Linked DNA regions of Homo sapiens: all the other regions are linked to region 3. Evidence: fine-mapped expression QTL. A gene starts in region 3. Each other region holds a variant in brackets. All regions are shown on one strand. Distances are between the middles of the regions. Region 1 overlaps INSR (insulin receptor). Region 2 overlaps INSR (insulin receptor). Region 3 holds the start of INSR (insulin receptor).

The links. PIP is the estimated chance that this variant, and not a neighbour inherited with it, causes the effect.
Region 1: its variant is fine-mapped to the expression of INSR in lung (GTEx, PIP above 0.99).
Region 2: its variant is fine-mapped to the expression of INSR in blood mononuclear cells (TOPMed, PIP 0.98). The same link has a PIP of 0.9 or more in whole blood.

Annotation. Positions count from the first base shown.
Region 1 is chr19:7,104,956-7,115,297 of GRCh38, reverse strand. INSR (insulin receptor) reads left to right here. Exons shown (of 22, transcript NM_000208.4): 22 at 1-3,033. Among named protein-coding and RNA genes, the nearest start is that of ZNF557, 40 kb to the right of the region's middle. RefSeq lists a silencer at 1,733-1,933 and an enhancer at 5,043-5,562. The variant T/C (reference allele first, on the strand shown) is at 4,445.
Region 2 is chr19:7,178,300-7,188,641 of GRCh38, reverse strand. INSR (insulin receptor) reads left to right here. Exons shown (of 22, transcript NM_000208.4): 3 at 4,005-4,326. Among named protein-coding and RNA genes, the nearest start is that of INSR, 110 kb to the left of the region's middle. RefSeq lists an enhancer at 9,348-9,447. The variant G/A (reference allele first, on the strand shown) is at 5,102.
Region 3 is chr19:7,288,511-7,298,852 of GRCh38, reverse strand. INSR (insulin receptor) reads left to right here and starts at 4,439. Exons shown (of 22, transcript NM_000208.4): 1 at 4,439-5,061. The coding sequence starts at 4,962. RefSeq lists silencers at 3,858-4,037, 4,178-4,567, 4,588-4,867, 5,008-5,147, 5,198-5,257 and enhancers at 5,239-5,997, 9,900-10,342.

The DNA.
Region 1 (10,342 bases), 180 kb after region 3:
AAGAACCACCACAGCTGCTCAAAGAACACAGTGAACTCATCACTTTGGTTCATCAAAAAATCATCGCCCATGCGTTATTCCTGAGTGCATTTTCTTACAACTTTTTGACTGCTTCCTTTTCTTCTTCTCTTAAGAGTTGTGGGCTTAAGAATGGGATAGAGTCATAATGGCAACCTCCAAGCCCTCTCAATTCTTGATTAAGAACACAGGTAGACATGAATCCCAATTGTCTATTGCTATCTTATTTATATGATTCGGGAAAATACAGCATGTAAAAATATTGCTGAGGAGCCTCAGTGATTGGGTACAAGAAGCAAGAGTACAGAAATTATTTTTGCCAAATTTATTTTGTAAATATGAGGGTCTGTACCTAAATTTAAAAAAAAAACACGTAGAACTAGGTATTTTGTTCTCTTCTTAGTAAATTTGTAGTGGTTGTATACTACACTAGCTGCAATTTTCACATTTTTCTAATTCAGAAAGGTTTTTCTTATATTAGGGGAAAAAGTATTTATTTTAATATATAAAATCACTCTGAAAATCACTCTCATAAAAAATGGAGCGCATGTAAATTTTTATCAAAGAAAAATAAACAGGTGAATGGGGGATAGTGATTTTCTTTTTTCAGCACAGTCTACCTCAGTGTATTGTTAAGATGTGATTCAATCATGGACATCTTTGAGATTTCAGAATTCTACCTGGAACCGGTCTGAATCAGGGAACGTGTGTATCAGCTGATTCGAATGCCAGGGACCAGTAAGAATTTTGAGGGAGGGAGTTGGGATGGAGAAGGTATGGCCTTTATGCGAGCATAGATCCTTTTCTTCCTGGCTGGTAATATTCTTCTCTGAATTTAATCTTCCTTTAAAAAAAAATCCTCCATCTATTGTCACTATGTTCCCCAAACATAAACTAAGTTCCAGGCTGTCATGATGTATCTGATATATGGGGTAACCCAGCAAGGTGTACCTTCCTTTGGTGAGAGATGGCTGCCGGGGCAAAGACGGGCTTTGATTCAGAGCAAGCATTCCCACCTGTTCCATGGAATCCCCCTGAAGTGAGCACAAAGGTGCCCTGGGCTCCCTGATGGTTTATGCCCACTCCTTTCAGGCTGGTGATGCACCTTACACACAAACACCTAATGCAATGTCTTTTTAAATTCTCCAAGTGGGATGGGAGCATGTGAGGGAAATTCCAATCCAAAACCCATTAATGTGCTGAACGCTTTTTTTTTTTTTTTTTTTTTTTTTGCAACAACACCTTGGACCTCTGTGTTGGGGTTTGACTGACCTCAAGCTGATATTATTGGACCTTGTGCAGCTTTGATAACCCATGTGAGAGTCTAGGCAGGACCAGTGGGGCCCAAATCTTGCTGCTCTTGTACTTTTAGGCACTGCCCTTGCAGACTCACCTTTCTCCACCTGCCCTGGAGAAAGGTAGGGTGTGCTGGGCCTGCCCCTTGCAAATGGGATTCACCAGTTTCATTTATTTGACTCTACTGCCACAGTGAAAAGAGCAAACAGCTATTGGGTTGCAAACCTCCTTTGACATTAGGAAATGTTGACTTTGTAACAATAAAACTTTGGTCCTAGAAAGACACGGTTGTCCTGGGAGTTTGTAGTGTTAAGTTGCAACAACAACAACAAAAAGCAACAAAACCAGCTTAGGATAACACTTTTTGTTGCTTGTTCTTAAAGATGTCTCACTATGATTAAAACCCTTTTCATTAATGTAGTGAAAGCCACACAGGAGTTCCTTCTTCCAGGAGGAGAATACCAAGCACATCACTTTCTCTCTGCATCAGTGATGTCAAATACGCATCAGAAAATGTTCAGGTTTTAGGAGCTGTCCTAGGTGCTGTTTCATCATTGGAAGCAGTGAGAAAGAGAAGCACTGCTGCTTGTCTGGATATAGGCTGAGGATGATTGAGAGAAGCTGTGGGAACTGACACAAGGGTCTGCATAGGTCATCCTGTGACCCTGGGGACTATGTTACCAACTGACAGACAGATCTTTCACTGTATCCTAGCAGGGCAGGTAGTCCACCAAGAAATGTGCTTATTGGATTGGGAGGTGTTTATTTGTAGTCTGCTGTAACACGTGTGAAAGAGCAGGAGCGTCATCAGCATATGACTTGCGCTGGTCATCCGGTAAATGGATGTGCTGTAGTCCCAGTGCTAATCATTTCTCTCCTTCACAGTGGGTGGAAGTTTAGGGTTAAATGTCCTTTGAATGTCACCTGGTGAGTCCTTGACACCTTAGGCTCTTCAGAAACAATGGTTTTGTTGAGGATGGGGAACAGGGAATGCCGATTTTATATACATGGTACACAGAGAGGGGTGTCACTTCAGAAAATCTTCCAGCATGTTCTTCAGAATATTAATTTATATGCGAGGTGAGGTTGGGAATGAAAAGAACAGGTCAGCACTTTTTTTTTTCCTAGAACATACAAAAGAACATGGTGGACTTTCAGGGAGTGCAATGGAAGGTGAATATTTCCTTAAGGGTCCCCGAGAAATGGGAGTGAGGGGAGGGGACACAATGGCTTTTTGAGCTTACTTTTACCTTCTGATACTAGTCAAGGTCCAGAACCAGCCACCAGCCAAATTTCTATCTGGGTGCGGGCCACTGAAAATCCTTGTTAAAAACCAGATCACAAATCTGGGGCTCTTGGTCCCATTGGAGAAGGAAGGAAGAGCCTCAAAATAAGTGTGCACCCATGCACATATTCAGGAACAGCTTGTTTAGTCTTTACACTTTGCCTGAAAGTTGCTTCTCCTCGTCCCTTTGTGTGCCTGGGTGGCCTCGGCCCTGTGCGTTGGCAACGCAGGATCAAATGTGCTGCAGCTTTTGCAGAAAACAACTCAGAAACACAAAACCCCCCAACAGCTCAATTATTATTTTTTCAATGTTTTCCTACAAGAGCCAAGTAGCACCATGTACAGAAGACGCCTTTTTTTTTGGAATATTGAAATCGTTCTGCATGTAAAATATGGGATAATGACCTGTTTATATTAAAATTCTGATTAAATTATCTGAGAATACGCTTGTTTTTGTGTGGTGTCCCGGTAAGGACCTGTCGTGTGGTCGGGGGATGTGGCTATGAGTTGGGCTGTGTTAAGGAAAACCTCTTGGAATATGTAGGTGCCTTTTTTTAGAGGAGAAAAACACCTAGATTCTTCCACACATGAAAAGGGAGGTTAAATAGTTGCTACCAGCAGAGTTGATGACTCGTAGGGACATACTTGTATGGCCAAACTGGTGGTTTAAATATTGCACTATTTCCATACCATTTGGTAAGTAAGCGCTTCCCCAAGGGCTCCCAGACCTCCCCATGGTCCAACCACTAAAGGGTTCACTCCGAGAATACCAATGAACCTTCAAGATCTTGCTCTATTCTGACATGCGGGAAACTCATATGTTAAGTATTTTCAATGTCATCCTGGGAGTGGAGACCTGTCCCAGGTTGGGTGGACAGGTGAGTGACCATGGGTTAGACCATGGGATTGAAAGCCTTTTGAATAGTCTTTCTTGAGTGGCTTAAAACAGCAACTGTTTATTTATTTTCTTTTTTTGTTTGTTTGTTTTTGTTTTTGTTAGTTTGTTTTTTGAAATGGAGTCTCACTCTGTCACCCAGGCTGGAGGACAGTGGTGCAATCTCAGCTCACTGCAACGCTGTCTCCGGGTTCAAGCAATTCTCCTGCCTCAGCCTCCCAAGTAGCTGGGATTACGGGCGTGTACCACCATTCCCAGCTAATTTTGTATTTTTAGTTTCATCATGTTGGCCAGACTCGTCTCAAACTCCTGACCTCAGGTGATCCGCCCGCCTCAGCCTCCCAAAGTGCTGAGATTACAGGTGTGAGCCACCACACCCAGCCTTATTATTATCATTATGATGATTATTTTTGTATTTTTAGTAGAGACGGGTTTTCGCCATGTTGCCCAGGCTGGTCTCGAACTACTGTTCTCAAGCGATCTGCCCGCCTCGGCCTCCCAAAGTGCTGGGATTGCAGGCATGAGCCACGGTGCCTGGCCTGTTTCTTACAGTTCTATGTGTTGGTTGGGTGGTTCTTCCGGGAACAGCCTCACTCCTGTGCTGAGGCCTCTGCTGGGAGAGCCAGGATTGCTTGTCTTCTAGGAGGTTCACTCAGGCTTGTTCATATGGTGGTGGTTGCAGGGATACCCAGTCGGAAGGAACAAAAAGCCCCCAAATGTAAATATTTTCCAAACTTCTGCTCGTGTGGTATTTGCTACTGTCCCATTGCCCAAAGTAAGTCCCATGGCCAAACCCAGAGTCAGCTTTGGAGAGGACTGTCCAAGGATGCAGATAAAAGGTGATGTGAACCAACTAGAGTCCAATCCTGCAATAATCTTCCACTCCTTTACCCTCCTATCATTATTATTATATTTTTTTAATAATATAAAAGTGGGCCGGGCGCGGTGGC[T/C]CATGCCTGTAATCCTAGCACTTTAGGAGGCTGAGGCGGGCCGATCACAAGGTCAGGAGATCGAGACCTTGGCCAGGAGATCACCTGGCCAACATGGTGAAACCCCGTCTCTACTAAAAACACAAAAATTAGCTGGGCGTGGTGGCGGGCGCCTGTAGTCCCAGCTACTCGGGAGGCTGAGGCAGGAGAATCGCTTGAACCTGGGAGGCAGAGGTTGCAGTGATCTGAGATCATGCCACTGTACTCCAGCCTGGGCAACAGAGTGAGACTCTGTCTCAAAAATAAAAAAAAAAATACTACTACTACTACTACTAATAATAATATAAAGGTAAAGTTCTCACTTTACCATCCTATTATTATTATTATTCCTTGTTTTTGAGATGGGAGAAATAGCAGTATGGATGATGACAGGGATAATCCAGTCATCAGAGGGAAAAGAGATGAAGGCAGGGGATCACTAGCTCTATGTCCTTAAGCAAACAAGTGACGATGAGATCTACGGCACAGGTGGAGGGGTTGACCTTAGCTAAAGTGCAAAGTATGTGGGCTGTGGAATCTCTCTCCCTCCCAAAGGCAATGGAACTCAATCCCCAACCCCTCCAGGCGGTCTCTGGATTTCTCCAGACCACCTACCTCCAGCTGGCAGTGTTCTGAGCTGGGCCATCGAAAGTTGAGGTTATTGAATGTGTGTGTTTCCCCATTATCCTGGGAGCTTTCCAGAGGCTGCATGAAAGTTGCGTCTGAATTCTTCACATTCCTCCAAACTCTGGCCCAGAGTTCCGCAGTATGGGGTTGTTAAATTAGCCTGAAGACACACAAAGCAACTAACTGGCTAAGTGGCTGGTTTTACAAAGGGCGGTGGTCCTAACCCTGGGCTCTGGAATCCCAATGGTCATTCCAGCTCTCTCCCCTCCTCCTTTCTGCTCCCAGTTCTCTGCCATCCAGCTAGCAGGCTGATCATGGCCCACAGAGGCCCTACCCTCCTATTATTGACGATAGACCTTACCTTATATGACCATGGCAAAGATTAAATGAGGTAACATTGATCTCTCATGCTCCCTTCAGGATGGACATTCCCATATCCCCAAGTCCCTCCAAGTTCCCTGTTCTCCAAGAAATTGATGCTACTGCTTATCGGCTGTGGTGGCAGCGTAAATTCTGCTTCCCTGGGTTTGTGAAATTCAATGTGAGTCTCTTGGAAAATGGAAAATGTTTTTCTTCCAAGGAAAGCTCATCAAGGAAGGCATCAGTCTCAGGGAGGGTGGACGGCCGTGTGGTCTCTGTGCAGAGGAGCCACTTGGATTCCTTGAAAGCCCTGGCCAAGTGATCACAGCACCTTTTAGCAGGGTAGCTGGCGCCCTGGCCTGGAGTGGGGAGTGTCTGCACTGGGTTCCTGGAGCTTCCTCCTGGGCCTTGGGTGCTTATCAGAATCCCACTTATTAAAAACAAAGGTGTGTCTGTCTAAGCCACACCCAGGCCTCCTCCATGAGCATCTATGGGGCAGGGCCTGGGAACTTGCATTTTAACAACTTCCCCTTCCCCCACTGGACTCAGCTGACTCAGGACAAGAACACGGGAACTTTGCTTCCATTCTGCCTTTGCCTGTGTAAGGGATCCAAATATGCCACTCCAAAGTATGCCACTTTTGGCCGGGCACAGTGGCTCACACCTGTAATCCCAGCACTTTGGGAGGCCAAGGCAGGCGGATCACCTGCGGTCAGGAGTTCGAGACCAGCCAGGCCAACATGGTGAAACCCTGTCTCTAATAAAAATACAAATATTAGCTGGGTGTGGTGGTGCACACCTGTAATCCCAGCTACTTGGGAGGCTGAGGCAGGAGAATCGCTTGAACTCAGGAGGAGGCAGGAGAATCACTTGAACCCGGGAGGCGGAGGTTGCAGTGAGCCGAGATCACGCCACTGCACTCAAGCCTGGATGACAGAGCGAGACTCTGTCTAAAAAAAAAAAAAACACTTCACAACAACAAAGTATGCCACTTTGGCACATTGGTTATTTTGAGTTAAAGGTGCTTGAAAAATAGCAAACAAGAAGGACACTCTGACTTTCCTTTTTCTTCCTGAAAGCAGGAGATGAAACTACCATACTATATTTTGTCCAACCTAGTACATAAGCATTCAGCTCCAACTGCTTCTTTAGGTCTTCGTTTTTCTTACAAAATCTCCCCTGCACATGTAAAAATTACTAAATAAAGACCAGGCATAGTGACCCAGGCCTGTAATTCTACCACTTTGGGAGGTCAGGGCAGGAGGATCACTTGAGGCCAGGAGTTCACGACCAGCCTGGGCAACATAGAGAGACCCTATCTCTACGAAAAATTTTACAAATTAGCCAGGCACAGTGGTGCACACCTGTAGTCCCAGCTGCTCAGAGGACTGAAGTGGGAGGACTCCTTGAGCCCAGGAATTGCAGGCTGCAGTGAGCTATGATTGTGCCACTGTCCTCCAGCCTGGGCGACAAAGTGAGACACTGTCCCCAAAACTAAACAAAAATCCTCAACTAAATGAAATGTGTATATTTATCTTGTTAATCTGTCTTATGTCAGTCCCAGTCAGAGACTCTAAGAGGGTGAGAGGGAAAGGTTACTTCACCTGACCCCCAAAATATTATATTTGTCTTAGTGGCTCAAGTCAGCTCCCGGAAGCCCTCTGCCTCATTTTGAACCATGGCTCTCCTATGATTAGTTGTACGAATCTCCCTGTGTATGGGGATGACAGTGGTCCCTGCTCCTTACGGGTGTTGCGGGATATAAAATAAATTTGTGGTGTGTGTAAAGCACTTACACAGGGCATGGCTAAAGTAATTGATGGTGACAGAAACCAGATCATGGGTTTCCTATGGTGGGGGTAACGGGATCTTGGTTGTGAAAGGGGTACATGGGAACTTTCTGGGGTGATGGACATGTTCTGTACCTTGACTGAGGTAGCAAATACATGGGTATATGCATTTATCAGTTCACTGAGCTGTACGCTTAAAACCTATCCCTTTTATTGTATGTAAATTATACCTCAGTTAAAAGAAGTTGCCTGGCACACAGTAAGCACTTAGTATGTGTCAGCTGTTGCTTCCACCAGCATTAACATCATCACCATCATAATTATCACCATCATCATCATCATCACCATCATGATCGTGATCACCATCACCCTCATCATTATATCATCATTACCATCTCCATCACTGTCATCAGCATCACCATCATCATTATCACCGTCATCACCATCATCGTCAGTATCATCACCATCATCACCATACCATCATCATCAGTATCATCACCATCATCACCATCATCACCATCCTCATCACCTTCACCATCATCACCATCACCCTCATCATCATTATATTATCATCACCATATCCATCACTGTCATCATCATCATCACCATCATTATCACGGTCATCACCATCGTCACCATACCATCATCATCATCATCACTATCATCACCGTCACCATCCTCATCACCATCGCCATCATCACCCTTATCATTATATCATCATCACCATCTCCATCACTGTCATCATCACCATCATCAGCACTGCCATCATCATCATCACTATCATCACCATCATCACCATCTTCATTACCATCATCACCCTCATCATCATTATAGCGTCATCATCATCTCCATCACTGTCATCATCACCATCATCATTAACATCATCACCACTATCACCATCATCACCATCACCATACCTTCATCATTATCATCAGTATCATCACCATCCTCATCACCATTACCATCGTCACCATCACCCTCATCATCATTATATCATCACCATCTTCATCACCATCATCATCACCATCGCCACCATCATCACCATCATCATCATCACCACCATTATCACCATCACCATACCATCTTCACCATCATCATTACCATCACCATCATCACCATCATCACCATCATAATCATCACCATCATCACCATCATCATCACCATCACCATCACCATCACTATACCATCATCATTATCTCCATCATCACCATCTCCATCACCATCATCACCATCCTATCACCATCACCATCATCATCATCACCATCCTTACCATCTTCATCACCATCATCATCATCACCATCTCATCACCATCACCCTCATTACCATCACTATCATCGCCATCATGGCCATTCTTATCATCACCATCATTATCTTCATCATTATCTGATGCCTCAGGATCATTTCCAGTGCTGGCTACTACCCTTGGATCTCTGCCTCCTTCTTCCACCCTTCTAGAAGAAAGAAATACTTCTCTTTCTTCTCTTTCCCTCTTCCCTGCTCTCTTTCCTGTATCTTGTTCAGTGTGGGCCTCTTCTTTGCTGCCTCCACCCTGGCTTCCCCTTTTCACTTCTCCCCTTAATTCCCTTCCTCTCTCTGTATTTATCTCACTGTTTCTCCTTGTGTTTTGATTTTTTTTTGTTTGCTTGATTGTTTCTTCATCACCCTGCTCCCTCCTTGTTTCTGTCCTACTTTCTACTTCTTGCCACTCTTTTATCTCTGTTTTATTTATTTCAAGTCTGCTTCATCCTCTCCTCCATCTTTTTCTGTATCTGCCTTCTGCTCTTTTCTCCTATTCTCTTAATCTTTCTCCTTCTGTGTGCTTCCCTTTGTGGTCAGCCATGTTTCTGCCTCTCTTCATTTGTGCTTCTCCTCTTTTTTTCCCTTCTCTCTCCATCCTCACCATCTACTCCCCTCTTGCACCCACCATGGTTCCCTCACTTTCTTTCTTTCTTTCTTTTTCTTTCTTTCTTTTTTTTTTTTTTTTTTTTGAGACAGAGTTTCACTCTTGTTGCTCAGGCTGGAGTGCAATGGCACAATCTCAGCTTACTGCAACCTCCCCCTCCAGGGTTCAAGTGATTCTCCTGCCTCGGCCTTCTGAGTAGCTGGGATTACAGGCACCTGCCACTATGCCCAGCTAATTGTTTATATTTTTAGTAGAGACGGAGTTTCACCATGTTGGCCAGGCTGGTCTCGAACTCCTGACCACAGGTGCGCCTGACCTACTTTATTTCTTTTATACATTACTTCTGTATCTCCTTACCCCATCTTTCCCTCTGTCTTTCCTTCTATGTAGGACTTTTCTGTCTTCCCATTTTTTTCTCTATTTCCCCCTCTCCTCCTCCCACTCTTGTCTTATTTTTCTTCTCTCCCTTTGCTTCCCTTGTGTGTGTTCCTTAGTTTCTCTCCTTCTTGGTCACTCTCTCTGAGTTATTTCTCCAGTTTTGGTCTCACTTGTTTCTCTTTTTTTGCTTGTGTATTTCTGCTACCCAATCTTCCTGTCACACTATAATTTGGGCTTTGCTTTTCTTTCTCTCTCATTTCACCTTCCTCCTCCCACTCATATCTCTGACCTCCTCCCCCTTTTCTACCATTCTGTTTCTACCTCTACTTCTCTTGGGGCCTTTTTTTTTTTTATCTATCTGTATTTGTAATTTCCTATATGTTTGTCTATTGCCTTCTCTTCATCCACCCATCCATCTATCTGTCCTTCTTTCCTTCCTTTCTATCCATCCACCCACCCATTTGTCTGTATATCCATCTTGTCTATCCATTCATCATCTATCCACCTACCTGTCCATTCATCCACCCATCCATCCATTTATCCATCCACCTATCCATCCATCCATCCATTCATCCATCCATCCATCATCTATCCCTCTTCTTGTCTGTCCATCAATTTATCTGTCTGCCTGTCCTTTCATCCAAGGCTCCTATCCAGTGGTAAGACCCTGACAGGCTGAGAAAGCAAGGCACAGGCTTTGGTTTCATAGACCACAGCCTCACAACCAGAGGAGGAACTCTGGCTGGGCTCTGGGTTAGAATGGGGATGTGGGTTGCTGAGACAGTCAGACTTGGGAGCCAGGAAATGCAAATTCTGGCCTTG
Region 2 (10,342 bases), 110 kb after region 3:
CCTCAGCCTCTCAAAGTGCTGGGATTACAAGCATCAGCCACTGTGCTTAGCCCTATTAGAACTTCCTAATATTCTTGTTTTTTTTTTTTTTTTGGACGGAGTCTCACTCTGTCAGCCAGCCTGGAGTGCAGTGGATCTCAGCTCACTGCAACCTCCACCTCCCAGGTTCAAGTGATTCTTGTGCCTCAGCCTTCTGAGTAGCTGAGTAGCTGGGATTACAGGCGCCCACCACCACGCCCAGCTAATTTCTGTATTTTTAGTAGAGTCGGGGTTTTACCATGTTGGCCAGGCTGGTCTTGAACTCCTGACCTCAAATAATCCACCCACCTCAGCCTCCCAAAGTGCTGGGATTATAGGTGTGAGCCCCCGCGCCCAGCCCCAAGATAATTTTCAAGAGTGATCCATGCCATAAGGAAAATGTAATGAGATAATGTGTTAGCTTATGAATGGAGCAGGAAGGGCGACTTCTGCTGGGGAAGTCAGGGAAGATCTGTGTAAGGACCTGAAGGATGCAAAGGAGCAAGTCACAAGGGGACAAGGGACCAGGGTGCTCCACCCAGAACAGCTTGTGCAAGGTCCTAAGGTAGGGCTGAGCCTGGGTGTGTGTGGGTGGGAGGTGCAGAAAGGAGGCCAGCCTGGGAGAAGAATTTAGCAAGACTGGCAGGGATTAGACCCCCCAAGGCCTGTAGGGAGTTGGCTTTTATTCTGTATGCCTGAACTGTCTCGTCTGGGAGACGGTAGTCATCTGTGGCTAGTAAACATTGGAATTGTGTCAGGCACAGTGGCTCATACTTGTAATCTCAGCACTTTGGGAGGCTGAGGTGGGAGGATCGCTTGAGCCAGGAGTTCGAGACCAGCCTGGGCAACATAGTGAGACCCCATTTCTACAAAAAATTAAACACTTAGCTGGGCGTGGTGGCGCATGTCCATTATTCCAGCTACCCAAGAGGCCGAGGTGGGAGGATCACCTGAGCCCAGGAGATTGAGGCTGCAGTGAACTGTCACTGTGTCACTGTACCCCAGAACCTAAGTGACAGAGCCAGACCCCATCACACACCCAAAAAAGAAATCGTTACACATTTTATCCATATGACAAAATATCACAAGTACCCCATAAATGTGTAAAATATTCTGTATCAATGTAAAACTTTTTAAAAATTTTAAACTGAAATTAAAATGAAATGCAGTTAAAAGTTTTGTTCCTTGGTAAAAATTGGAGCCCTGGTACACTGTTGGTGGGAATGTAAAATACTGCAGCTAGGCTGGGCACAGTGGCTCACACCTGTAATTCCAGTACTTTGGGGGGCCAGGGTGAGTGGATCACTTGAGGTCAGGAGTTCGAGACCAGCCTGGCCAACACGGTGAAACCCCGTCTCTACTAAAAATACAAAAAAATTAGCGGGGTGTGGTGGTGGGCACCTGTAATCCCAGCTACTCGAGGCTGAGGCAGGAGAATTCCTTGAACCCAGGAGGTGGAGGTTGCAGTGAGCCGAGATCGAGTCACTGCACTCCAGCCTGAGTGACAGAGTGAGACTCCATCTCAAAATAAATTTTTTAAAAAAGAATAAATCCTATATTATTCCACTTATATGAGGTTCCTAGAGTCATCAGAGTCACAGAGACAGAAAGTAAAATGGGATGTCGGGCGCAGTGGCTCACACCTGTAATCCCTGCACTTTGGGAGGCTGAGGCAGGAGGATCACGAGGTTAGGAGTTCAAGACCAGCCCGGCCAACATGGTGAAACCCCATCTCTACTAAAAATACAAAAATTAGCTGGGTGTGGTGGTGGGCGTCTGTAATCCCAGCTACTCTGGAGGCTGAGGCAGGAGAATCACTTGAACCCGGGAGGCAGAGGTTACAGTGAGCTGAGATCGCGCCACTGCACCCCAGCCTGGGCAACAAAGCAAGACTCCATCTCAAAAAATAAAAATAAAAAAAAAGAAAAGAAAAAGAAAGTAAAATGGCAGGTGCCAGGAGTTGGGGAGGAGGATGAGTGTGACTGTTTCATGGGGGCAGAGTTTCAGTTTGGTTAAGGTGAGAAAGTTCTGGAGATGGGTGGTGGTGATGGTTGCATAGCCACATAAAAGTATTTAATACCACTGAACTATACATTTAAACATGATTACAATGGTGAATTTTATGCTATGTGTATTTTACCACAATTAAAAAAAAAATTGGATTTCCTAGTTGCACTAAGCACATTCAGAAGCCACAGGGGAGAAGTGGCTACTATGTTGGATGGCCCAGATAGAGAACATTTCCGTCATCGCAGAAATTTCGACCAGATGGTGCTGTTCATATATGGATGTAGCTTCTGGGGCCACTTCTGTTCCCTGAGTTTGGCCGGTGGGATCCACTGTGCTGAGAATCACAGTCTGGGGATTTGGGGTGAAGAACACTCCCCAACTTTCTTTCTTATTTTTTGTTTTGTTTCATTTTTTGTTTTGAGACAGAGTCTCCCTCTGTCACCAAGGCTGGAGTGCAGTGGCATGATCTCGGCTCCCTGCAACCTCCCCTCCCAGGTTCAAGCGATTCTCCTGCCTCAGCCTCCTGAGTAGCTGGGATTACAGACGCCCACCACCACACCCGGCTAATTGTTTGTATCATCAGTAGAGATGGGGTTTCACCATGTTGGCCAGGCTGGTCTGAAACTCCTGACCTCAGGTGATCCGCCCACCTTGGCCTCCCAAAGTGCTAGGATTACAGGCATGAGCCACCACAACCAGCCTTTTTTTTTTCCTTCCTTCCTTCCTTTTCTCTCTCTCTTTGTCTCTCTCTCTCTTTTTTTTTTTTTTTTTTGACAGAATTTTGCACTTGTTGCCCAGGCTGGAGTATAGTGGCACGATCATGGCTCACTGCAGCCTCCACCTCCCAGATTCAAGTGATTCTCGTGCCTCAGCCTCCTGAGCAGCTGGGATTACAGGCATGCACCAGCACACCTAGCTAATTTTTGTATTTTTAGTAGAGACAGGGTTTCACCATGTTGACCAGGCTGGTCTCAAACTCCTGACCTCAGGTGATCCACCCGCCTCGACCTCCCAAATTGCTAGGATTACAGGCGTGAGCCACCACACCGAGCCACATTTGCATGTTTAAGTAACTAACATGTCTCCTCCATTAGACCTTGTGCTCCCAAAGGCAGGATCTGCAGCCACTTTTTTCCCCACAGTGGCCACAGTATCTAGATTAGTGCAAGCAAATGTCTGTTGAAGCAATCAGTGGTTTGGGGGCAAGTTACTTAACCTCCCTGTACCTCAGTTTCCCCATTTGTAAAACAAAAAAATAAAGGAGCTAACAGTGTATCTACTTCACATGTGGGGTGCAGCAGCATGCTGGAGTTGGCTTGCTGGAGCCAGTGGTGAAATTTTCAGGCAATTTGTGAGCCATTTGTTAAACATAGATATTCATAAAAATTACATAAACCTACAGTTAAACAAATTACATTAAAAACAAAAGTTTTTAAATTAACAAAGCTTTTTAAAAGTAACAAATACTCAAAACTCACCACCTCCTAATATCATACGATGTTTTCCTATTATTTGTGCTGTTGAGGTTATTTACTACTTTTGTGTCAATAGTAGATACATTTTGTGTATACTTATAAATACTACTTAGAGGAATGCTACTGTGTATCTTTTGTCAGCTTATGTTTAGTAACTTCATGTTGGTGGCCTGAAATCCACCACTGGTAGGAATATTTACACCATGGAAATCGGCAAATGCTATATAAATCTGGGCCTCCCTGGGCCCCTCCCTCAGGCAGCTGTTAAACATTTACAAGCTCACCAATGGTTTGGAGGCTTAAACCAGTTAATAGATGTGTCTGACATGTGGGTAATGATGTAGACGTGCCGCTTTTACTGTTAGTGTTTGGTTGGCTTTCACTGTCTGATCCAGAATTGCTGCATATGCAGACAGGAATTGGACAAAGCCATTTATTTATTTATTTATTTATTTATTTATTTATTTATTTATTTCCCTCTCTCTCTCTCTCTCTCTCCAGTTTGCCCGACCATCTGTAAGTCACACGGCTGCACCGCCGAAGGCCTCTGTTGCCACAGCGAGTGCCTGGGCAACTGTTCTCAGCCCGACGACCCCACCAAGTGCGTGGCCTGCCGCAACTTCTACCTGGACGGCAGGTGTGTGGAGACCTGCCCGCCCCCGTACTACCACTTCCAGGACTGGCGCTGTGTGAACTTCAGCTTCTGCCAGGACCTGCACCACAAATGCAAGAACTCGCGGAGGCAGGGCTGCCACCAGTACGTCATTCACAACAACAAGTGCATCCCTGAGTGTCCCTCCGGGTACACGATGAATTCCAGCAAGTGAGTTCTGGATGTGGGTCTGGGGGGCAGCCGAGAGGAGAAGGAACGTGGGGTTGGTTGTGACGATGCCGCTTGTTAAAACTGTGTGCAAACCCAGGGTTAATTGGCTATGAGTGAGGTCTCTGCTCTCAGATGCTACTTTTGCACCCTGTTTTGGTCCTGGGCTTGGGAGTGGGAGTTGACTACCTTTTTCTCTAAAGGACCAGATAGTATATACTTCTGGCATTGTGCCCACCATTCTTTTTTTTTTTTTTTGAGATGGAGTCTTGCCGCAAGACTCCCAAGCTGGAGTGCAGTGGCACGAACCTGGCTCACTGCAACCTCTGCCTCCTGGGTTCAAGCGATTTTCCTGCCTCAGCCTCCCAAGCAGCTGGGACTGCAGGTGCCTGCCACCATGCCCGGCTAATTTTTGTATTTTTAATAGAGACAGGGTTTCGCCATGTTGGTCAGGCTGGTCTCGAACTCCCAACCTCAGGTGGTCCACCTGCCTTGGCCTCTCAAAGTGCTGTGATTGCAGGTGTGAGCCACCGCACCCAGTCTGGCATTGTGGACCTCAGTTCTAAGCTTTCTGTGGTTGGCTTCAGAACAAGAAAATATAATAAGGACAGAGTCCTTGGTTTTCCCTAAAATCCTCCACGTGGCCTGTCCTCACTGATGTAGCTTCATCATTGTCACATAAAGGATATACCAAGGTCTTTCGTGTCTTCCCTGACCTGTAGCCTGGTGGTGTGCCAAGATTAGCCCAGAACATACTGTCTCCAGGAGGAAGAGACTC[G/A]CTTCTGCATTATTCTCAGGGCTTTGCTGTTCTCTGAAGGACAGTATAATCAAACCATTTCCTGCCGTTTGGGTGAGAAATAGCAGGGTTTTCTCTCTTCGACAGAGTCAGATTTCCTACGCACATCGCAGACTTTCTGTTCGTACTGTGAGCTTCTTCCATGAGCTATTTTGGGGCCGTAACTGAGTTGCAAAAATCTGTTTCCTGGTTTTTGTATTGAGGTTTTATGTTTTGTTTTAAAACACACACACACACACACACACACACACACACACACCACAAAACAACACAAAAACAAATCAGAAACAGACACACATCAAGAGGCCTTGAGCTGACCTGCTTACGTAAAGTATCTTCCTCTTCAGACTTGAGAATTAGCCAAGCGAGAGTGTTGGGGTGGGAAATTGTATTTCCCTGGGTGGAGAGGGCGGGAAGGAAAACAAGCTGTAATTTCAGTTCTTATGACTCTTTCTTTGAGTGTTTGTGAAACCTGCAAGTACAATATGTTTTGTTTTGCTCGTTGTTGATAAAAACCTACCAAAAAAACCTTTTGGCTTTATTGACCAAAAGGGTCTATAAATCACCTTTTCATACCAGACAGACTTTTGTTTTAGGTTTTTTTTTTTTTTTTTGGCCAGTGTATTCCCAAGATTGAGGAAATGACCATATTCCTTTTGATTCATTTCTTTCTTTTTAAAATCACAATTGAAATAAAAAAAATGGGTTAATATCTTCTGGCAAGATGTTTGTTTAAAAGACATTGGCCTTAAATAAAAGGCATTTTTCCCTCACCTTAACAATGGCCTGAGAAATATAGCAACCTCCTTTGATTTTCTCACTGATGATGCGGGAGATGCTAAAACAGAAACCCTGAGAAATTGACCGCACATCCTTGGTATCTGGGACCTTTCCTGAACGGAAGAAAACAAAGGAGAGGGGGGTGCATTGTCACCGTATTTTATTGCGTAGGTTTAAAAAAATTAATATTTTTATTTCTGAAGCTTTTAATTAATTAATTTATTTATTTTGAGACAGAGCCTCACTCTGTCACCCAGGCTGGAGTGCAGTGGCATGATCTCAGCTCACTGCAACCTCTGCCTTCCAGGTTCAAGCCATTCTCCTGCCTCAGCCTCCCAAGTAGCTGGGATTACAGGTGTGAGGCAGCAAGCCTGGCCAATTTTTTTTTGTTTGTGCTTTTGTTTTTTTGAGATGGAGTTTCATTCTTGTTGCCCAGACTGAAGTGCAATGGTGCGATCTTGGCTCACTGCAACTCAGCCTCCCGGGTTCAAGTGATTCTCCTGCCTTAGCCTCTAAGTAGCTGGGATTACAGACATCTGTCACCATACCCAGCTAAATTTTTCTTGTATTTTTAGTAGAGACCGGGTTTCATCATGTTGGCCAGGCTGGTCTTGAACTCCTGACCTCAAGTGATCCACCCACCTCGGCCTCCCAAAGTGCTGGGATTACAGGCATGAGCCACCGCACCTGGCCTGAAGCTTTTCTTTTTATCTTATGAAAGACTTAATCGTACTGTGGCATTTTCTAATGTGGTTTGATATCAAATAGGGCCAGATGTTTTCTTCCATTCTGGTGGCTTATCTGGGAAGGAGTTCTTGATGTTTTCAGAGCAGAGTTCTGGGAACCCATGTTAAAAGGCCTTGGCCAGGCACAGTGGCTTATGCCTGTAATCCCAGCACTTTGGGAGGCCGAAGTGGACGGATCATCTGAGGGCAGGAGTTCAAGGTCAGCCTGGCCACCACGGTGAAACCCCGTCTTTACTAAAAATACAAAAACAAAAAAAAAATTAGCTGGGCATGGTGATGCATACCTGTTATCCCAGCTACTCGGGAGGCTGAGGCATGAGAATTGCTTGAACCCAGGAGGCAGAGGTTGCAGTGAGCTGAGATCACGCCATTGCACGTTAGCCCCCAGGCAAGTGTGACAAGAGTGAAACTGCATCTCCAAAAAAAAAAAAAAAAAGGTCTCACCATCTACTGTCGTTCCAAAGTACCTGCTGGGATGTAATAGCACAGTGCTGCTTCCTGAGATGAGAAGGACCAGATATTTGTGATGAATAAATTTTCAATGCGTATGGGGTATCCACTGGGAAGGGGAGAATTACCTAAAATCCTTGATTCTTCTTGGCCTCTCTCACTTCTTCCTATTAAGCTGAGGTCTCAAATTTGTCTACACCTCCATCTATTTCACCATCATGTCTGGTCTGACCCAGTCCCCTTGAACAATCTCTTTGCTCCTGCTTCCATTCTAGTGACACTGGTAAAAAGTGGCCACCTGGGCCAGGCGCGGTGGCTCACGCCTATAACCCCAGCACTTTGGGAGGCCGAGGTGGGTGGATCACCTGAGGTCAGGAGTTCGAGACCAGCCTGACCAACATGGTGAAACCCCATCTCTACTAAAAATACAAAAATTAGCCAGGCGTGGGATTACAGTGGGCGCCTGTAATCCCAGCTACTCGGGAGGCTGAGACAGCAGAATTGCTTGAACCCGGGAGGTGGAGGTCGCAGTGAGCCGAGAGTGTGCCACTGCACTGCAGTCTCGGTGACAGAGTGAGACTCTGTCTCAAAAGAAAAAATAAAAGTGGTCATCTGATCATATGCCATGTCCTTCCCTAAAACCCTCCGGTGGCTTCCCAAGACCAATGGACAGAATCCAAACTCCTCATCGGGAGGGCTCGGCCAGTTCTCATTCTCATTTCATTCCGGTGCCCCCTGGCCGTGGTGGTCGTTACCGCAGGAGCTTTTCCTGCAACTTGCTACATCCGCTTTCCTCTGTGCCTTTCAATTAGCTGTTCCCTCTTCCTATAATGCTTGTCCCTGCATTTGAGAATGATCCACTTTTTCCCCTCGTCATCTAGATGGCAGCTTAAAAGTCACCTCCTTGGCAAATCCTTCCCGTCTGAGTCAATCATCCGTGCACTCTCTGTCACATCATTTAGTTTTAACTCTTCGATTTGTCACTAGCTGATATTTTTGTCTTTTTTTTTTTTTTTTGAGACAAGGTCTTGGTCTGTCACCCAGGCTAGAGTGCAGTGGCACCCACATGGCTCACTGTGGTCTCAACCCCCTGGGCTCAAGAGATCCTCCTGCCACAGCCTCCTGAGTAGCTGGGACTATATAGGCACACACCACCACACCTGGCTAAAAAAAAATTCTGTAGTGTTGGGGGTCTTGCTATATTCCCCAGGCTCGTCTTGAACTCCTGGGTTTAAGTGATCCTCCCACCTTGGCTTCCCAAAGTGCTGAGATTACAGGGCCTGAGCCACTGTACCTAGCCTTTGTTGTCAATTTATTCACTCTCCCCAACCAGATGATAAGCTTTGTGAGTGTATCAGCTAGCTCTTGTTGCGTAACAAAACCACCTCAGTGCTTAGTGGCTTAAAACACTCCTTTAGGAGCTCTGATGATTTCATGTGTTGACTGAAGGTTTGTCTGGCCTGGGCCTGTTTAGCTACGGCTGATGGTTTAGGGGAGCCTCTTGTGTCTTTGATGGTCAGTGGGGGTCTCTCTCCATAAGTCTCTTACCCCAGCAGCCAGGAAGGGCAGACCTCAATGTTCAAGTGCTTTTCAAGCCTCAGCTTGTATCACGTTTGCAAATATTCCATTGGCCAAAGCAAGCCATATGGCCAAGCCCAGATTCAACAGGTGGGAACATAGACTCCACTTCTTGGTGGGAGAGGCTGCAAAGAACTCATGGTCATTTATAATTTCCCACTGGGAAAGCATATTATCTGCTTTGTTCACTCATGTATACCGGCAGCTGAGAACGGGGGTTGGCCAAGGGCCAGATAGTAAATATTTTCAGCTCTCAGGGCCATATGGTCTCTGTTGGAGCTACTTAACTCTGCCTTTGCAGCGTGAAAGCAGGGTTAGACGATGTACTAACCAATAAATGTGGCCATATTCCAATAGGATATTATTTGCAAAAACAGGTGGCCTACTGGATTTGGCTCCCAGCCCACTGTTTGCCAACTCCAGGCTTAGAGCATTGCCTGCCACATAATAAGAATAGAGGCAATAAAAGAAGTCAAACATTTGGTCAGTATTTTGTTTCTGCCTCAGCTGTTCTGCCACTACCTGGGTGTACTTGCAACACCGTTCTGACACCATCCTCCTCCAAAGTTAGCATCAGACGCCACAAGTTTAAGGCTCAGCCCTCCATGAGATTTCCCTTGCTTCAGACACTGGCAGCATCTTGGGGATCCCCCAGCCACCCACACTTCTGACTAACTGGCTCTAAATTGGGGGATTCCCACAAACTGTTTGGGTTTCATAATTTACTAGAAGGAACTCACAGAATGAAAATAAACCTGGCCAGGTGTGGTGGCTCATGCCTGTAATCCCAGCACTTTGGGAGGCCATGGTGGGAGGCTCACTTGAGCCCAGAGGTTCGAGACCAGCCTGGACAACATAGTGAGATCCCATCTCTACAAAAATTTAAAAACATTAGCCAGGTGAGGGGGTGCATGCCTGTAGTCCCAGGTACTTGAGGGGCTTAAGCAGGAGGATCGCTTGAGCCCAGGAGTTCGAGGCTGCAGTGAGCTAAGATTGTGCCAGTGCACCCCAGCCCGGGTGGCAGAGCAAGATCTTGTCTCAAATTTAAAAACCCTGCTATACAATTACAGTTTTATTATAAAGGATACACATACGGCAAGATCTGGGAGAGTTCTAGATGCAGAATTTCCATATTGCCTCCTCGTGGCAACAGCATGTATCACCCTCTTGACATACTGGTGTGTCCACCAGCTGGGAAGTACTACTGAGCTTCAGCGTCCAGAGTTTTTGTTTGTTTGTTTGTTTGTTTTGAGACGGAGTCTCACTCTGTCACCCAGGCTGGAGTGCAGTGGCTCAATCTCAGCTCACTGCAACCTCCACATCCCAGGTTCAAACAATTCTCCTGCCTCAGCCCCCCGAGTAGCTGGGACTACAGGCATGCACCATCACGCACGGCTAATTTTTGTATTTTTAGTAGAGACAGGGTTTCACCATGTTGGCCAGGCTGGTCTCAAACTCCTGACTTCGTGATTCACCTGCCTCAGCCTCCCAAAGTGCTAGGATTACAGGCGTGAGGCACTGCACCCGGCCCAGTATCCAGAGTTTTAATTGGAGTCTCATTCCTTAGGCGTGATTGATTGAAATCATTGACCATGTGATTCAACACTGCCATTTCCAGCCCCCTCATCTCCCTGGAGGTCCTAAAAGCCCCAACCCTCTGATCACAGGG
Region 3 (10,342 bases):
TGGAGTGCGCTAGTGGCATGATCTTGGCTCACTGCAACCTCCGCCTGTTAGGTTCAAGTAATTCTCATGCCTCAGCCCTCCAGAGTAGCTGGAATTACAAGCACACCACGCCTGGCTAATTTTTGTATTTTTAGTAAATATGGGGTTTTGTAATGTTGGCCAGGCTGGTCTCGAACTCCTGACCTCAAGTGATCCGCCTCCCTCTGTCTTGCAAAGTGCTGGGATTACAGGAGTGAACCACTGTGCCCAGCCTCTACACACTACAGTCTTAGAATAAAGCAAGTTAGAGAAGAGAAAATGTTATTTAAAAAATCACAGCTGGGCATGGTGTCATGTGGCTGTAATCCCAGCTCCCTGGGAGGCTGAGGCAGGAGGATCACCCGAGATCAGGAGGTAGAGGCTGCAGTGAGCCCTGATGGTGCCACTGCACTCCAGTCTGGGCAGCAGAGTGAAACCCTGTCTCCAAAAAGAAGAAAAAAAGAAAAAGAAAAAGAAAATCACAAGGAAGAGAAAATACATTTACAGTTACAGAACGCTACAATATTTATCAATGCCATAAATTTGTTTACAAGATGAATTGTCTGTCTGAAGCAGACAACCGCAGCTGTAGAGCTCCATTTATGTTACGTAGCAAGCAATTCAACTTTTTCTTGTCCTGTCCTGACTTTTCTCTGCTTCTCGGGAGCATTTCCAGCATCACTAGTGGCACTTTACATGGGTCTCAGGATGTTATTCAATGTTTGCGGTATTGCACTAAACACAGTGAAAAATACGCGGGAACCGCCAAGAGATCCCTTTTTACCGGGGCACAAATTCCTGGAGAGGTGAACTGCCCACAGGGAGATAATTAATGTAACATGGCATTTAAAGCGGATACTTGCAACACTTGCACTCACTCCAGTAGCAACAGGAGGTGGCTATGAAATTGTTACAATAACACAATATATTCTATAGTTAATTTTATGCAGTTATGATTGAATGCTGCATCTTTACATTTATTTACATTTCTCTTGACTTGGAATAACACCATGTATGGTTTGTAAGTGTGTGTGTACGTTTTAATACATTTTAACTTTTTGTAACAGATTTGTGTATATTTTATGTTAGCAAATTATAAAATAGGGCTGGACATGGTGGCTTATACCTGTAATCTCGGCACTGTGGGAGGTAGAGGCAGGAGGATCACTTGAGTTCAGGAGTTAGAGACCAGCCTGGGCAACATGGTGAGACCTCGTCTCTATAAAAAGTAAAAAAATTAGCCGGGCGTGTTGGTGCTTGCCAGGAAGATCGCTTGAACCCAGGAGTTGGAGGTTACAGTGAGCCATGATTGGGCCACTGCTCTCCAGCCTGGGCAACAGAGCAAGACCCTGTCTCTAAAAGAAAATAATAACAAAAATAATAAAACAGACTAGTATCTACATATATTTTATGCATTCATGACATACCTAATTTTTTTTTAATATTTCTTGGCTACCAAGTTCATCTGCAAGTCTTTTCAAACTATTGCAAATCTCTAAAAATGTTTCCAATATATTTATTGAAAAACATTCTGTTTAAAGATGACCTCACTTTGGGAGGCTGATCAGATCAGCTGAGGTCAGGAGTTCGATACCAGCCTGGCCAACATGGTAAAATCCCGTCTGTACTAAAAATACAAAAATTAACCGGGTGAGGTGGCGTGTGCCTGTAGTCCCAGATACTTGGGAAGCTGAGGCAGGAGAATAGCTTGAACCCTGGAGGTGGAGATTGCAGTGAGCTGAGATTGCTCCACTGCACTCCAGCCAGGGTGACAGAGCGAGACTCTGCCTCAAAAAAAAAAAAAAAAAAGATGTGCACGGTTCAAACTCATGTTCAAGGGCCCACTGCAGTTCTCACCCATGGCTTCACTTTCTCCTCTTTCTTTTCTGCAGCTACAGTGAATGCCTGGTTCAGTTGCAAGAATGCCTTGCCCACTCTCCTCTGGGCCTTTGCTCATGCCTTCCCCCACCTGAAACACATCCCTATGGCTTCCCTAGGATGGCTCCTCTTCATTTTCAGACTTAAGCTCAAAATCACATCCTCAGTCAGGTGCAGTGGCTCACGCGTCTGTAATCCCAGCAATTAGGGAGACCGAGACAGGCAGATCTCTTGAGGTCAGGAGTTCAAGACCAGCCTGTCCAATATGGTGAAACCCTGCCTCTACTAAAAATACAAAAATTAGGCAGGCGTGGTGGCATGCACCTGTAATCCCAGCTACTCTGGAGGCTGAGGCAGGAGAATTGCTTGAACCTGGGAGGCGGAGGTTGCAGTGAGCCAAGATCGTGCCACTGCACTCCAGCCTGGGCAACAGAGTAAGATCCATCAAAAAACAAACAAACAAAAAACCCCATGTCCTCAGCAAACCCCTCCCTATGCACCTCCCATTTCCCTCAGCTCATTACACACTCAATTATTTTAAGGGCTCTCTCCCTGGCTCAGTTGTGAACTCCATAAGGAAATGGGTCATGTTTATTTTGCTCACTGAAAAATCCCCTATTACTTATTGCTTGTTGATTCTCCCACTCAACAAATATTTATTAAGCAACAGATTTGTCAGGCACTGGGTTTAAGCAGTGAAACAAGACCGAAAAGATTTCCGCCTTCACGGGAAGGGGAGAAGACACAGAAAACGAATAAGAATTTCAAGGCCAATCATGGTGGCGCATGCCTGTAATCCTAGCACCTTGGGAGGCCAAGGCAGGAGGATTGCTTGAGGCCAGGAGTTCAAGGCTGCAGTAAGCTAGGATTGCACCACTGCATTCCTGCCTGGGTGACAGCAAGATTCTGTCAAAAGGAAAAAAAAAGAAAGAAAAGAAAAAAAAAAAACAAACAATTGCAGGTAGTGGGGTAAACATGCTATGAAAATGAGAGAGAAGGGGCCAGGCGCAGTGGCTCAGGCCTGTAATCCCAGCACTTTGGGAGGCCAAGGCCGGTGGATCACCTGAGGTCAGGAGTTTGAGACCGGCCAGGCCAACATGGTGAAATCCTGTCTCTACTAAAAATACAGAAAATTAGCTGGGTGTGCTGGCGCATGCCTGTAATCCAAGTTACTTGGGAGGTTGAGGCAGGAGAATCACTTGAACCCAGGCAGGTGATGTTGCAGTGAACTGAGATCTGGCCATTGCACTCCAGCCTGGGCAACAGAGAAAAACTCCATCTAAAAAAAAAAAAAAAAAAAAAAAAAAAAAAAAAAAAAAAAAAACAGAGAGAGAGAGAGAGAGAAGGAAACGGAACTGGGGGGAGGATTTGCAAAAATATGGTTAGGGATGGCACTTCAGAGATGAAGCCATCCTGGAGTGTTACGGGCAAGGGAAATGCTGGGGCAAAGGCCCAGAGGCAGGAATAGGTTTGGCCTGTTGCATGAACAGTGGGTCCAGCTCCTAGCAAACTGTTTATTGAATGAAAGAAGAATGAATGCCTTGGGTCTAGGGTTGTGCTGGGCGCTTTCTTAAGTTTTCTTTCCCGGGTACCTCCCCAGAACTGGCATGCAGGTATTATTAAACCCATTACACAAGTGAAACTGGCCCAGAGACAGAAAAGTCCCTGGTCCAAGACCACACAGGAGTGAGGGGTGGAGGAACCCTCCTCCCATTGAGTTCTGGCTTTCCTATACTGAAAGCCCCTTCCTCTCCTGCAGTAAGGTAGGTGGAACCGCTGTCCCGCCTTGTTGGTGAATGTCGTTGCTAGACTTCAGACACATACAGGCTGGTCTGCTGAAAATCAGAGATGTCCACCTGCGCCCTATTCGAGGTCTCCGGCGTCTTCTTTGGCGTCGTCTTTGCCCTTTCAGAAGCGTCTGCACATTTTTCCAGGTGTCATTTCTCCAACTTGAACACAGGGAGCGCACTGGGCACGCGGGCACGTGGCTGTCCCCAGGGGCCTGGCTTGGGTCTCGCCCCTGGGCCGGGGCGCACTCGCGGGCGGGACATCTGGGGGCGCCCACGCGCTCTGGGACGAGTGTCGCTGGCCAGGCCCGGACTGAGGAAAGGCGAGTGAGACACTACTCGCCTGGGGTGCAAAATTTAAGGGAGTGAAAAAAAAAAAAAAAGAAAGAAACCAAAACCACCTCGAGTCACCAAAATAAACATTTTAATGCAGTATTTTTTAAAAAATCAACAGGAATCCTCCAAAGCCCACTATGAACAAAATAGCAAAATGGTAGAGAAAGGATCTGTGCCGCTGCGTCGGGCCTGTGGGGCGCCTCCGGGGGTCTGAAACTGGAGGAGACTCGGGGCTGTAGGGCGCGCGGATCTGGGGCGCGCCCTCGGTCCCGGCGCGCCCAGGGCCTCCCGCGCGGGGCCCGGCACAGGGAGGCGGGGAGGCGGGCGGGGCGGGGCGGGGCCGGGCGGCACCTCCCTCCCCTGCAAGCTTTCCCTCCCTCTCCTGGGCCTCTCCCGGGCGCAGAGTCCCTTCCTAGGCCAGATCCGCGCCGCCTTTTCCCGCGGCCCGCACGGGGCCCAGCTGACGGGCCGCGTTGTTTACGGGCCCGAGCAGCCCTCTCTCCCGCCGCCCGCCCGCCACCCGCCAGCCCAGGTGCCCGCCCGCCAGTCAGCTAGTCCGTCGGTCCGCGCGTCCCTCTGTCCCGGAGCCCGCAGATCGCGACCCAGAGCGCGCGGGGCCGAGAGCCGAGAGACAGTCCCGGGCGCAGCGCGGAGCTCCGGGCCCCGAGATCCTGGGACGGGGCCCGGGCCGCAGCGGCCGGGGGGTCGGGGCCACCACCGCAAGGGCCTCCGCTCAGTATTTGTAGCTGGCGAAGCCGCGCGCGCCCTTCCCGGGGCTGCCTCTGGGCCCTCCCCGGCAGGGGGGCTGCGGCCCGCGGGTCGCGGGCGTGGAAGAGAAGGACGCGCGGCCCCCAGCGCCTCTTGGGTGGCCGCCTCGGAGCATGACCCCCGCGGGCCAGCGCCGCGCGCTCTGATCCGAGGAGACCCCGCGCTCCCGCAGCCATGGCCACCGGGGGCCGGCGGGGGGCGGCGGCCGCGCCGCTGCTGGTGGCGGTGGCCGCGCTGCTACTGGGCGCCGCGGGCCACCTGTACCCCGGAGAGGGTGAGTCTGGGGGCGCGGGCGTGGGCGGGGAGCGCCGCGATGGGGAGAGGACCCCACCCAAGCCAAAATCGAGCCCCCGCTTGTGGACTGAGAACCCTCCCCAGGGGCGGGGGGCGGTGGCCAGGACGGTAGCTCCTGCATCGCGTAGGGGGAGCGGGAAGCCTCTGACCTTGGCCTTTGCCCGCCCGGGCTCGCGCCTCCGCGCCCTGCGTGCCCGACCTGAGCCCGAGGAACCTTGCCCCGGTGCCCGCCCCGCCGCGGGCTCCTCTCTGGAGCGCGCCTCCGACCCGTGCCCCGGCCCCTCCGAGCCCAAGTCGCTCCGGAGACACGACACGCGTCATCTTTGGGTCGCGGCCGGGAAGTGGGGTCACTGGGTCTGGACAGCCCCGAACAGCCAAGTCCCCCGAGCGCATATGGTGTAGGTAGAGCCAAGCGCCCTGAGTGCCTCACCGGTGGGTGACGCTGCCTGGGGTCAGGGACTGCAGAGCCCCCCTCTACCCAACTACCTTGGATCTAGGCCCGTGGCCACCCCGGACTCTAGGTCCATGTTTACCCTTTTGGGTTCTGTTTCCAGATGTCCGGAGGCAAATTCTAAAGCCTTAGCAACAGCAGCAATTGTAGCAGAAGTAGTGGCGGTTTTTTACCCTATTTATTGTAATTGGTATCACCGCACGCCACAGCCTAGTCTATCTTATCTCTCTGGACTGTCACAGTGGCCCCCGGAGGCAGATACAGTTATGCACCCATTTCACAGAGGAGTAAACTGAGGCTCATGTAGGACGCATAACTCCCTTGCCCTAAAGTCAGTGCCAGAGCCAGGACTTGAGCCTCTGTGTGTCCCGTTCTGCCCAAGAATCTGGACTACTGTCCCTTGTCTGCTGTCTCCTTGACCCCTCCTCTCCCCTCAGCCCTGCGCTTCATGAAGGAGCCTTTGACCTTGAGTGAGCCTTTCGTTCCCCCTGACCCCATGGGCCCCTCTCCCACGTGTGGGCAGCATCTTCCTTGGGCTTGACAATAGGCACCTTTGGGGTTGTAAGATGAAGATGGCGCAATCATTTAAGGAATATAGCCTGGGTTTCCCACTGTGGGGTCTGAGGCCCTGCTTTAAAAATATCTGTTGGGTTACTGTTTCAGATTTCTCCATAAAAGGAAATCAGTCGTGATGAGGAAGGGGTCAGGGAGGGAAGGAATTGAAGCTCTTAAATGTATTGATGGGGAAACGGGTGCATGTAAAATCAGGTGCTAGAGTGGACCAACCGGGTTTGCTGAGTCGACTCTGTCAATCACATAATGTCTAAAAGCCCCGGGCCCACCCCCCCCCAGCCCCGCCCCCAGGTGCCTGGGAGACAGTAGGTGCTCAATGAAGGGTGGCGGTTAGTTGGAGTTCTTGTTAAGAAAATCTGGCCAGCTGCGGTGGCTCAAGCCTGTAATCTCAGCATTTTGGGAGGCTGAGGCGGGCGGATCACGAGGTCAGGAGATGGAGACCATCCTGGCCAACATGGTGAAACTCCCTTCTCTGCTCAAAATACAAAAATTACCTGGGTTTGGTGGCGTTCGCCTGTAGTCCCAGCTACTTGGGAGGCTGAGGCGGGACAATTGCTTGAACCCGGGAGGAGGAGGTTGCTGTGAGCTCAGATGGCACCACTGCACTCCAGCCTGGCCAAAGAGCGAGACTTTGTCTCAAAAAAATAAAAAAAAAGGCGGGGCGTGGTGGCTCACGCTTGTAATCCCAGCACTTTGGGAGGCCGAGGCGGGTGGATCACCAGTTCAGGAGATCACGACCATCCTGGCTAACACGGTAAAACCCTGTCTCTACTGAAAAATAGAAAAAATTAGCCGGGCGTGGTGGCGGGCGCCTGTAGTCCCAGCTATTCCGGAGGCTGAGGCAGGAGAATGGCGTAAACCCGGGAGGCGGAGCTTGCAGTGAGCCAAGATCGTGCCACTGGGCGACAGAGCGAGACTCTGTCTCAAAAATAAATAAATAAATAAAAAGAAAATCCAAGATGAGTGGTTTCGAACTATGCCAGATTCTATGTGTGCGTGTGTGTGGTTCCCTGTTCTTCTGTTCCTTGTAGCTTTGGTAATTAATTGTGGATCTGTGCCTGGGCTTTCAGGGTCAGTAAATGGATTTACCATTTCTTTGCACATTTATGGCTTCCATATGGGCAGGGGTTTATGGTTTGTTGTTGTTCACCGTTGCATTTCTAGAGCCCAGAACGATGCCTGGCACATAGTAGGTGTTCAGTAAATATTTGTTCTGCAGTGGGGCACAAGTGGTGGAGTTCCTGGGTGTACTGGGCTCCTTTATCATCTTAAGGAGTTCCTTATTCTCTGCATAATACCTTCCTAAGAATTAGAAGAGCAAGCTCTCAGCAGGTGCTGTTCTATGCGCTTTGCATATATAATCTCAGTTAATCCTCACGGCAAAACCCCACGAGGTGCGGTTTAATCTTCCCTTTTCACAAGTGAGAAAACTTCGCTTGAGGCCAGCAGGCAGCAGGGCTGGGATTGCAATCTAGCTAGTGTGGCTGCAGAGCAATGGTTTCTTAACAAATCTTTGTTCTTTTGAGTCCGAGCCTCCGTACCCCCCACGATTGGGGTGATGGTGAACAAAATCCTGTCAAATAAATGGGCTGTGATGCCTCTTGAAGGCTTGGGGAGGGGCAAAGAACTTTTCAGATCATTAATCTCTAATGTCAACCAATATGGCTTTTTTTTTTTTGAGACGGAGTCTTGCTCTGTCACCCAGGCTGGAGTGCAGTGGCACGATCTCAGCTCACTGCAACCTCCACCTCCCAGGTTCAAGGGATTCTCCTGCCTCAGCCTCCCCAGTAGCTGGGATTACAGGCGTGTTCCACAACACCGGCTTATTTTTTGTATTTTTAGTAGAGACAGGGCTTTGCTGTGTTAGCCAGGATGGTCTCGACCTCCTGATCTTGTGATCCACCCGCCTCGGCCTCCCAAAGTGTTGGGATTACAGGAGTGAGCCACCGTACCTGGCCTTTTTTTTTTTCTTTTTTTTTTTTGAGACAGGGTGTCACTCTGTCACCCGGGCTGGAGTGCAGTGACACGATCTTTGCGACCTCCGCCTTTCAGGTTCAAGTGCATCTCCTGCCTCAGCCTCCTGAGTAGCTGGGATTACAGTCGTGTATCACCACCCTTGGCTAATTTTTGTATTTTTAGTAGAGATGGGATTTCGCCATATTGGTTAGGCTGGTCTCAAACTTCTGACCTCAAGTGATCTGCCTGCCTCGGCCTTCCAAAGACCTGGGATTATAGGTGTGAGCCATCACTCCGGGCCCAATATGGCATTTTGATTGGGATGAAGGGTGGAGGAAAATCAGTGTGATTTTTGTATCTATCTCTCTAGCTATCTATTATTTTTTGAGATGAGGTCTTGCTCTGTTGCTTAGGCTGGAGTGCAGTTGGGCAATGATGGCTCACTGCAGCCTCGACCTCCTGGACGCAAGCCATCCTCCTATTTTAGCCTCCGTAGTAGCTGGGACCACAGGCACACGCCACCCTGCCTGGCTAATTTTTACTTTAATGTGTAGAGCTGAAGTCTTGCTATTTTGTCCAGGCTGGTCTCAAACTCCTGGCCTCAAGCGATCTGCCTGCCTTGGCCTCCCGAAGTGCTGGGATCACAGGCATGAGCCACGGTGTCTGGCCTCTGCAGTTATTCTTATTCTTTGCTTCTCTCCTGGAGACCTGCTTCTTGCCCTTCCCCATTCATGCATAGAGACCACAGGGTGTGGGCTGAGTCCCCAGGGCTCCCCACCTCACCCCACTCTACCCTTGACTTCCATTCCTCTTTGGTTTAAGCAGAACTCTCAATCTTGGCACTGCTGACATTTGGGGCTGGATCATTCCTGGTGGTGGGGGCTGTCCTGTATGTAGAGTGTTGAGCTGGAACCATGGTCTCCACCCATGTGGTCCTGGGAGGATCCCCTTCCCCCCAGGCATGACAACCACTAATGTCTCCAGACATTGCCAGGCACGTCTCTGCAGGAGTTAACCTTTTCCCTGTCTGAGACATTTACCCATCTGGGCTCTTGCTCTTTCTCCTCTCTTTGTTCAATAATCCTCGGCCGGGTGCAGTGGCTCACGCCTGTAATCCCAACACCTTGGGAGGCTGAGGTGGGCGGATCCCCTGAGGTCAGGAGTTTGAGACCACCCTGGCCAACATGGTGAAACCCCATCTCTACTAAAAATGCAAAAATTAGCCAGGTGTGGTGGCGGGTCCTTGTAATCCTAGCTACTTGGGAGGCTGAGGCAGGAGAATCGCTTGAACCTGGGAGGCAGAGCTTGCAGTGAGCCGAGATCACACCATTGCATTCTAGCCTGGGCAACAGAGAGAGACTCTGTCTCAAAAAAAAAAAAAAAAAAGAAAAGAAAAAAGAATCTTCATTTACCCACGTGCTTTTTCAGCCTCTAAACACCCAGTACCCCCCAATCCCCATTACCTACCACTGACCTCCAGCCTCCACCCTGTCCAGCTTCCCCAGGCCAGTCCTCCCTGCCCTTTCCATCTCACTCTTTTCTCACTGTTCTGCCCCCAGCATCTGGCTTGCATCTCCGCTGCTTTACCGATGGCTCTCGAAGTTAATCTCTCATCTCCCAGTTGCGTCTCCTGCAGCCTCACCTCACTTGACCCCTCTGGGTTTGACATTGCCAGTCCCCCCTCCTGGAAGGCTGTGTCTCCCGTCTCACCTGTGCCTAAGTTCTTCTGTTTTACTGTTCTCTTCTCCTTCTACCTGGGCTAAGATGTTGGCTCTCTCTTCCCAGAGGGTCAGTGTTTCCTTTAATCTTCTCTCAGCTCACTTTTTTTTTTTTTTTTTTTTCACTTCTTCACCCGGGCTGGTGTGCAATGGCATGATCTTGGCTCACTACAACCTCCGTCTCCTGGGTTCAAGCAATGGTCCTGCCTCAGCCTCTCCAGTAGCTGGAATTACAGGCATGTGCCACCCCGCCTGGCTAGTTTTTGTACTTTTAGTAGAGACAGAGTTTCACCCCATTGGCCAGGCTGGTCCCAAACTCCTGACCTCAAGAGATCCACCTACCTCAGCCTCCCAGAGTGCTGGGATTACGGGCATGAGCCACCGTGTCCGGCCCTTTTTTTTTTTTTTTTTTTTTCCAATTTTTATTTCTTTTTAGAGACAGGATTTTGCTCTGTCACCCAGGCTGGAGTGCAGAGGTTTAGTCCTAGCTTACTGCAGCCTCCAAGTCATGGCCTGGAGCAGTCCTCCCACCTAGGTTCCCCAAGTAGCTGGAATCACAGGCA